Linked DNA regions of Homo sapiens. The protein of the gene in region 2 purifies or fractionates together with the protein of the main gene of each other region. This does not show direct contact. Each region holds a gene or a part of one and is shown on either strand. Other genes may lie near its edges. The genes, in order: POTEE and MOGAT1.

What was found.
Region 1: the proteins of MOGAT1 (region 2) and POTEE purify together in Homo sapiens (affinity purification with mass spectrometry; one large-scale study listed by BioGRID and IntAct). This does not show direct contact.

What each region holds. Positions count from the first base shown.
Region 1 is NC_000002.12:131,208,114-131,212,500, forward strand, and holds the start of POTEE (POTE ankyrin domain family member E), read left to right. Parts: upstream 1-1,422; 5' UTR 1,423-1,706; intron 1,707-2,914; 5' UTR 2,915-3,070; intron 3,071-4,387.
Region 2 is NC_000002.12:222,706,025-222,709,833, reverse strand, and holds part of MOGAT1 (2-acylglycerol O-acyltransferase 1), read right to left. Parts: intron 99-3,809; coding exon 1-98. UniProt on the Homo sapiens protein: Involved in glycerolipid synthesis and lipid metabolism. Catalyzes the formation of diacylglycerol, the precursor of triacylglycerol, by transferring the acyl chain of a fatty acyl-CoA to a monoacylglycerol, mainly at the sn-1 or sn-3 positions.

The DNA.
Region 1 (4,387 bases), about 91 Mb from region 2:
CTTCTTTTCCCCCATCCCACTCTCATCACCCTCTTTTGCTCCTTCATCTAAGCAAAAACATTTTCTCCCGTCTTTTCCCAAACCCTTCTCCTCACTCCTGCTGCTCACCACTTTTTCGCCCTTCATCTACCCGAAAACTGTTTTCCTCATCGTCTTTTCCCCCGCTCCTCCTTGCCACCCTCTTTCCCTTCTCTACCCAAAAACATTTCCCCATAGTCTTTTCGCAAAGCCTTCTCCCCACTCCTGCTCACCTCCCCTTTTCCCCCTCCATCCACCCCCCAGAATATTCCCTACTGTCTTTTCACAGTCTTCCCCCCTTCCCACTCGTCCTCTTCTTTGCCCTATCCTGCTTGCCACTCTCTTTTTTGCCTTCCATCTACCCCAAACTATTTTCCCATTTTTTCCCCAACTCTCTTTCCCTGCTCCCTCTCGTCACCCTCTTTCCTCCTCCTCGTTACCCTCTTTCCCCCCACCATCTACCCAAACACTTTTTACCCACTGTCTTTTCTTTCTCCACCGTCTTTCTTTCCTGCCCACTATCTTTTTGCAAAACCTTGTCTTCCTCCCGCTGGCTACCCTTTTCCCTTCCCCCACCTGTTACCCTCTTTTCCCCCTCTATCTACCCAAAACCTTTTCTCCCCACTGTCTTTTCACAAAACCTTCTCTCTCTACTGCTCAACGCTGTTTCTCCCCCCCACCACCCTCTCTTTCCTCCTCCCTTGCCACCCTCTTTTCCTCCTCCATCTACCCATAAACATTTTACCCACCATCTTTCTGCAAAACCTTCCCTCCCTGCCGCTCCCCACCCCGTTTTTCTCCCTCCATCTACCCAAAAACTTTTTTTCCCACTATCTTTTCCCCACCGCCTTTTTGCAACGCGCTCTCCTGCTCACTATCCTCTCTTCCCTTTGGCACTAACCACCCTCTTTACCCCCTCCATCTATCCCAAAACTCTTTTCCTCCTCTTACCGCTTCCGCCGCACTGCCGTCTCGGTCGCGGTTACCACCAGTCGCAGCGAGGCGAGCCACGGTGTAGCGGCTCCAGCCTCCAGCGTACGGCTGGTGATTACCCATTCCTGGTCCTCTAAGCCGGGCACTGAGCAGCTCCACAGGAAAATACGGGAACGTGGAAGAGCCTGACTTCCCTTCAGCAGCAGGCGTATACCGCGGTTATATACAGGAGGATTCCTGACTGCATGTTCTGATTGGATGAGAAAAACCCTCCAGGGTTACTTGGATTGGACTTTATTATCATGTTCTGATTGGATGAGAGCCAGTCTTAAGACAACCAATCACAGCATGAAAATAAAGTCCAATCAGAGTAGGCCTAGAGGTTTTTCTCTCATCCAATCAGAACATGTAGTCTGGGAACCACATGTGCGTAACCTCAGTACGTAAAGCATGCGGAGGTGGCGTCAGGTCATTTCAGGCTCTTAAGTGTGGGCGTTTGGTAACCGGCATGGCTGCTACCTGTTTCTGGCTGGAGCCTCGGACACTGGCTCACTGCAGTTGGTGGTGTCCACAGAGCGGTAGGAGGGCAACTAGTAGCGGGAGCTTCTCCTGCCAGGCAGGAAGACGAGTAGAAGGGAGCAGCACCGACGCATGCTGGAGGCTGGAGCCTGAGCCCCTGGGGCTCGCCTTGCTGTGTTTGGTGGTGACGTGGGACACTGCAGCTCGGCCAGAGTGGTAGAAATGTCCTGGTGTAGGTGAGTTATCCGGGGATGTACTGCCCGCCTGTGGGGGCAGGGGTTGGGTGTCCTATTGGGGCTCACTGCCCGAGGCTGCACTGCCTGTGTCAGGGGGCTGGTTGGGGGCACTCTCCGAGGTTGCATTGCTGGCGGTGGAGGGGGGCGGTTTTGGCTGGCTGTCCGGGGCTACACTGCCCGTGGTGGCGGGGGTGGTGGGGGGGAGGCAGGTTGTGTGCACTAACGTGTACTGCCGGTGGCGGGGGAGGGGTTAGGGGCACTATTTTCTGCTGCACTGCCCGGGGCAGGGAGTGGTTTGGGTGGTTATTTGGAGCTACAATGCTGGCAGCGGGGGGTGGTTTAGGAGTGTTGTCGGGTGCTGCACTGCCCTTACTCAGGGTGCGCTATCAGGAGCTGCGCTACCTGTGGTGGGGTGGGGGCGGCGATTTTGGGGCACTGTCTTGTGCAGCAACACCTGTGGCTGGGTCAGGTTGTGGGCACTATCGGGTGCTACACTGCCTGTGGAAGGGGTGGTTGGGGGGGGGTATTGGGGTTACACTGCCTGCAACTGGCACAGGGTGTGTTGGGTGTGCTGTCCGGGGGCTACACTGCCGGCGGCAGGGGTCAGGTTAGGGTTGCTATGGGGGCTATACTGCCAGTGGTGTTGGTCGGCTGCAGAGGTGGTGGGGACAGCAACAGCCATGGTCTCCTTGCTCCTTCGGGTAACTCTTCTCTTTTCCAGACTCCAGAGTTCCTGCTCGTGCAATCTTGAGCAGGGCAGGGCCCCCACACCCACTGCGGTTCTCCGGCCTGCACCTCCCGCCCACACCCCATGCTCTGTGTTGGGGAGACCACCTGGGACTACCGGGTGGGGATTAGTGGGCATCGCGGGGGACTGTGGGAACAGGGCACTGTGGGTGGAGGTGTCAGGAACGGGAACCAGCAGTTGAGTGGGGAGGGCTGGCTGGGTCTGAGTTTCTCCTACTCCTGCTCCCCAAGGAGTGCAGCCCTGGTGGGCCCAGCAATTTCTGGCCAGTTGCACCTGGATGGGGGTGGTTTCAGCATAGGCACTCACACCCGCCCCAGTTCCTGGCCACCTTTTGCCAGAAAGAGAGGCTGGACTTCGGTGGGTGGGTGTGAGTGCCTTAGCTGAAGCTGGTCCCTGCCACCCAGTGGCCAGCATGACAAGGTGAGGCTCTAACGTTACCACTCCCTGCATCCCATTCTAGGCTTTTCTGGCTTTGCCGGTCTAGCTGCTCCAAGCCAGGCTGGAGGAGGAGGAGAAGGAATCACCTGTGGTACGCTGGAGCCTGCATGTGGCGTGACTCTGCAGCTCGCCTCGTGTGACTGATGGCAGCCACGGAGACTGCAGCTCGACAGGAGTGGTAGGAGGGTGCCCGCGGGGGCAAGGTGGTAGGAACCTTGTAGGGTGGGCTGCTGCATTGACGGCGACAGCAACTGTATTGGCATTGGTGCTAGTGGTGGTAGTGGCAGAAAGTCTGGGGACTGGGAAGGGGGAGTAGGAGCACTGCAGGGCCCAGTCCGACCTGGGGTGGGGAGGAACCTGCTGGTGCTGTACCATGGGCCTCGGTGGCAGTGGTGGAGGTGCACTTAGGGAAAGGAGTCCTCCCCCTTCTCTTGCAATCTCTGGAGGGTGGCCTCCTTCTGAGCCAGGCATGAGTGGCAGCATTGTCTCATTCTTAACAAAATTTAGGGGGTGACTGTGTGTGTGTGTGTGTGTGGCTTTTTTTTTTTTTTTTTTTTTTTTTTTTGAGACAGAGTCTCGCTCTTTTGCCCAGGCTGGAGTGCAGTGGTGCGATCTCGGCTCACTGCAAGCTCTGCTTCCTGGGTTCACCCCATCCTCCTGCCTCAGCCTCCCTAGTAGCTGGGACTACAGGCGCCTGCCACCACGCCCAGCCAATTTTATTTTTGTATTTTTAGTAGAGATGGGGTTTCACAGTGTTGGCCAGGATGGTCTAGATCACCTGACCTCATGATCCGCCCACCTTGGCCTCCCAAAGTGCTAGGATTATAGGCGTGAGCCACCACTCCCGGTCATTTTTTCCTTCTTTTTTGTTGTGATGGTCTTGGACTTTTTCAAATTTTGTGAATTGGGGAGGGGATAAAAGGTGTCATAATAGGCCTTCTAATTCCTGCACCTGTTCTTTTTGCTTTTTCTAGTCTGTGTATTCTTCTCATCTTCTTGTTCCTCTTCATTTTCTTTTGCTGCTGCTTCTATTTCATGTTTCTATTCTTGTTTCTCCTCCTCTTTTTGTTTTCTTTATGCCAAGCAATGGCCTTAACAAACAACAAGCCAAAATTGTCACTGTGTTGTATTTTTAAAATAACTGGTCCTTTACTATGTTTTAGGGATGAGGAAAAAAATCAGTTGTATAATTAGTTACTTGAATAGCTATGCTTTCATGATTGTGTTAAACCACTTATGCCTAGTGTTCCATTATTGGAATGGTAAGCATGAGGGAGTTAATTACATCCTACTGCTCAAGGTCATTAGAAGGTTTGATTTTTCACTCGTGCAAAAATTCAAAAAATTGCAGCCTCTGGCATAAATGGGCTAATGCGTTATAAGTAGTTATTCAGAGAATCAAAAAATGAAGCATCACATAAAAATATTGGTGGCAAACAGCCATTTCATCTCTCTCACATATTTGGAGCTATGCAGGAGTCACGGGGTAAGTTCT
Region 2 (3,809 bases):
AAACAATTTCCTAAGTTCCTCCATATAGGTCTGATGTAACTCCTCAATCTGCTCCTGGGTCGGGTTCAGAGTCTGACGAACAGGGATCGGGCGGCCAACTGCAAATCAGGGAATACATCATACGTGAGGAACTAAAACCACTCCACCACAGACCGCCGCCCCTAATGCACAGCTGTGAACACAACTGCCAATCAGAATCCCTCCAGCCTGCTCACTCCAATCCTTGTTTCCTTTCACTGGCTGCCTGCAGTGGTCACACCACTCCATCTGATAACAAATAAAGAACTTTCCTCCTCAGCAGACACTGGATTGTCGGGACCCTGGTGGTTTTGACTTTGAGTCAAATGAGCTACTGTGCTGACTGCAGCTGGGAGGTGAGTGGACATAGCTGTGTGTCCACGTCACCAGCTTCCTCCCTCTGGAACAGTTGACAGCCAGACCATAGTGCCCTGATTATTACTGACTGTGAATCCTCACGTCACGTGGCAGTCCTCTAGTCTGACTCTTCTTTTTGAGACAGAGTCTTACTCTGTCACCCAGGCTGGAGTGCAGTGGCACAGTCTCAGCTCACTGCGAACTCCGCCTCCCGAGTTCAAGCGATTCTCTTGCCTTAACCTCCCACTGAGTAGCTGGGATTACAGGCTCCCACCACCATGCCCGGCTAATTTTTTTTTTGTATTTTCAGTAGAGACGGGGTTTTGCCATGTTGGCCAGGCTGGTCTTGAACTCCTGACCTCAAGCTGGAATTACAAGGGTGAGCGACTGGCCAGGCCCAGTCTGCCTCTTTTGAGTGTCTTTCTAAACAATTAAAAAATACATATCTTCACAGCTAAGTATCTGTATTAGAGAAATACACATAAATGACGTGGATTCCATTGTTTGTAATAGCGGGTAACTGAAAAACAGCTAACGTCTCAATAGAAAAACTGTTAAATAAACCATGTAATAGTCATTCAATAGAATCCTAGGCAGAAATTTTTAAACAATGAAATAATATAAATATGTGTACACATACACAAATACACACAGATGTCTAAAATGTATTAAGTGGAAAAATAATTTGTAAAATAATACAGTATGATCCATTTTTGGAAAAAATGTTTATATTCCTAGAAGTATTATACGTTTTTAGTGCATGGAAAAAAGTCCGGAAAGAGAGAGAAACATAAAAGTTCCTTTTTGGTAAGGACGTAGGGATGGGGAAATTTCACTCTAACTGTGTTATATAAATTTTCTACAAATGAGAATGCATTTGTGTTTTTCCAAATACACTAATTAAAAACAAATCTGGCAACCTCTATACATATTTTAAAAGGTGTTTATATAACATCTCACTTGTCTCTGATTTTTAGAAAATACAAAAATTCCCATGGCTTTGGCTCTTGCACTCGCTGCGCCACCTGCTGGTCGGATGCTGCTACTGATGCCAAGGGTTGAAAATGTACAGGATGGCCGGGCGCAGTGTCTCACGCCTGTAATCCCAACACTTTGGGAGGCTGAGGCGGGTGGATCACCTGAGGTCAGGAGTTCGATACTAGCCTGACCAGCATGGCGAAACACCGTCTCTACTAAAAATACAAAAATTAGCCGGACGTGGTGGCGGGCACCTGTAATCCCAGCTACCCGGGAGGCTGAGGCAGGACAACCTCTAGAACCCAGGAGGCAGAGGTTGCAGTAAGACCGGATTGCGCCACTGCACTTTAGCCTGGGGGACAGAGCAAGACTCCGTCTCAAAACAAACAAGCAAACAAACAACAACAAAAAAAAGAAAATGTACAGGAAGTTCAATGAGGCAGCAAACTGCTGCCTCTGACCTCATTAGCTTGGGCATGAGGTCAGGTGGGCTCTAGGTAATGAATGGGACCCACAGTAGAGCGACCTTTGTCCTATCCTGAGTCATCCCATGTCACATACGAGGTTCTGATTCATGTCAGTAAGAGTAGGTGGTTAGCTAAGCAAAATATGAACAAATGTTAAGTCACAGAGAAGGAAGTGATAAATGACATCAGTATGGGAGCTGAGGGGGCACAGAGGACACACACACATACACACATCCTTACTGCAACATTAATATTCTCAAATTGCTAAGAATTTAACCACACATAGCCTTGAAAAGCTCATGTGGTTTTCTTTGATAGCTTGGATGTCACATTTATACATAGTAGACATAAGTCCTGTTTAACTCAACACAAAGAACTGGAAACAACCATCTCACTGTCAATTGTGGCTGGAAATATGGACTAGCAGAGGCCAATGTAGTGATGAGGTGGAACTGGGAGCGGGAGTTGCACAAAAAGCACAAGGCTGGGCTGGGTCTAGTCCCAGCTCACCAGTAAGTGCCCTGAGCAGGTGACTTTCTCTCTGGCCTTAATTTCCTTTCCCTTTCCCTTTCCCCTTCCTTGCCTCCCTTCCCTCCCTTCCCTCCCTTCCCTCCCTCTTTCTCTTTTCTTTTCTTTCTTTCTCTTTCTTTCTCTTTCTTTCTTTTTCTTTCTTTCTTTTTCTTTCTTTCTCCTTCCTTCCTTCCTCCCTCCTTTCCTTCCTTCCTTCCTTCCCTCCTTCTTTCTCTCTCTCTTTCTTTCTCTTTCTTTCCCCTCCCTTCCTTCCTTCCTTCCTTGTTTTTCTTTCTGTCTCTCTTTCTTTCTGAAATGGAGTCTTGCTCTGTCAACCATGCTAGACTGTAATGGTGTGATCTCGTCTCACTGCAGCCTCCGCCTCCTGGATTCAAGCAATTCTTGTGCCTCAGCCTCCCCAGTAGCTGAGATTACAGGCATGTGCCACCACGCCCAGCCAACTTTTTTGTATTTTTAGTAGAGACAGGGTTCACTATGTTGGCCTTGCTGGCTTCAAACTTCTGGCTCCAAGTGATCTACCAGCCTCAGCCTCTCAAAGTGCTAGGTCGGCGTGAGCCACCACAGCCAGCCTCTCTGGCCTTAATTTTCACATGCATAGGATAAAAGAATTCCAAGATCTTGAAGCATTCTTCCAGCACTGAGCTTTTTTGTTGTTTGAGGAAGATATGGAGAAATCTACATGTAAATCTAAGCAAATTTGTGGCTTTGTTAAAATAGCTTCTGTTTTCTTAGTGAAATTATTCCAGTGAGAGAGGTTAATGTAACTATTCAGGGTAGGGGTAAGGGACCAGTAAAAAGACTCAGTGGTCTAAGAAGATGAAGTGTGTTCTTCTCTGCTTACTTTAGCTAGTACTCGTACATTCTGAATTAGTGAGTCTTCTTTCCTCTGAGCTATCCTACAGCTAATTTCAATCCTGTTCTTTTCTCATTAATTGTTTTACTACATTTCAGATGGTTCTTCCAGAGAGCTTAAGCATGCTCACATATGGAATGAATTTTTTTTTTTTTTTTATACAGAGTTTTTCTCTTTCTCCCAGGCTGGAGTGAAGTGGCATGATCTGAGCTCACTGCAACCTCTGCCCCCCAGGTTCAAGCAATTCTCCTGCCTCAGCCTCCCAAGTAGTTGGAATTACAGGCACGCACCACCATGCCAGGGTAATTTTTGTGTTTTTAGTAGAGACAGAGTTTCGTCATGTTGGTCAGGCTGGTCTCAAACTCCTGACCTTGGGTTATCCACCTGCCTCGGCCTCCCAAAGTGCTGGGATTATAGGCGTGAGCCACCACGCCCAGCCTAGAGTGAATTTATAATCATAAGACTTATCCCTTTAAACTGTGAGATAGACATAATCTTCTTTTCTTTGCCTTAGTTGTAGGAAAAGTGAGGAGCTGAAAGTTCCTAAACTATACTCAAAAAAGCCCAGGAAATTAATACGACTTAAACCCAGCATTCCTGCCCCT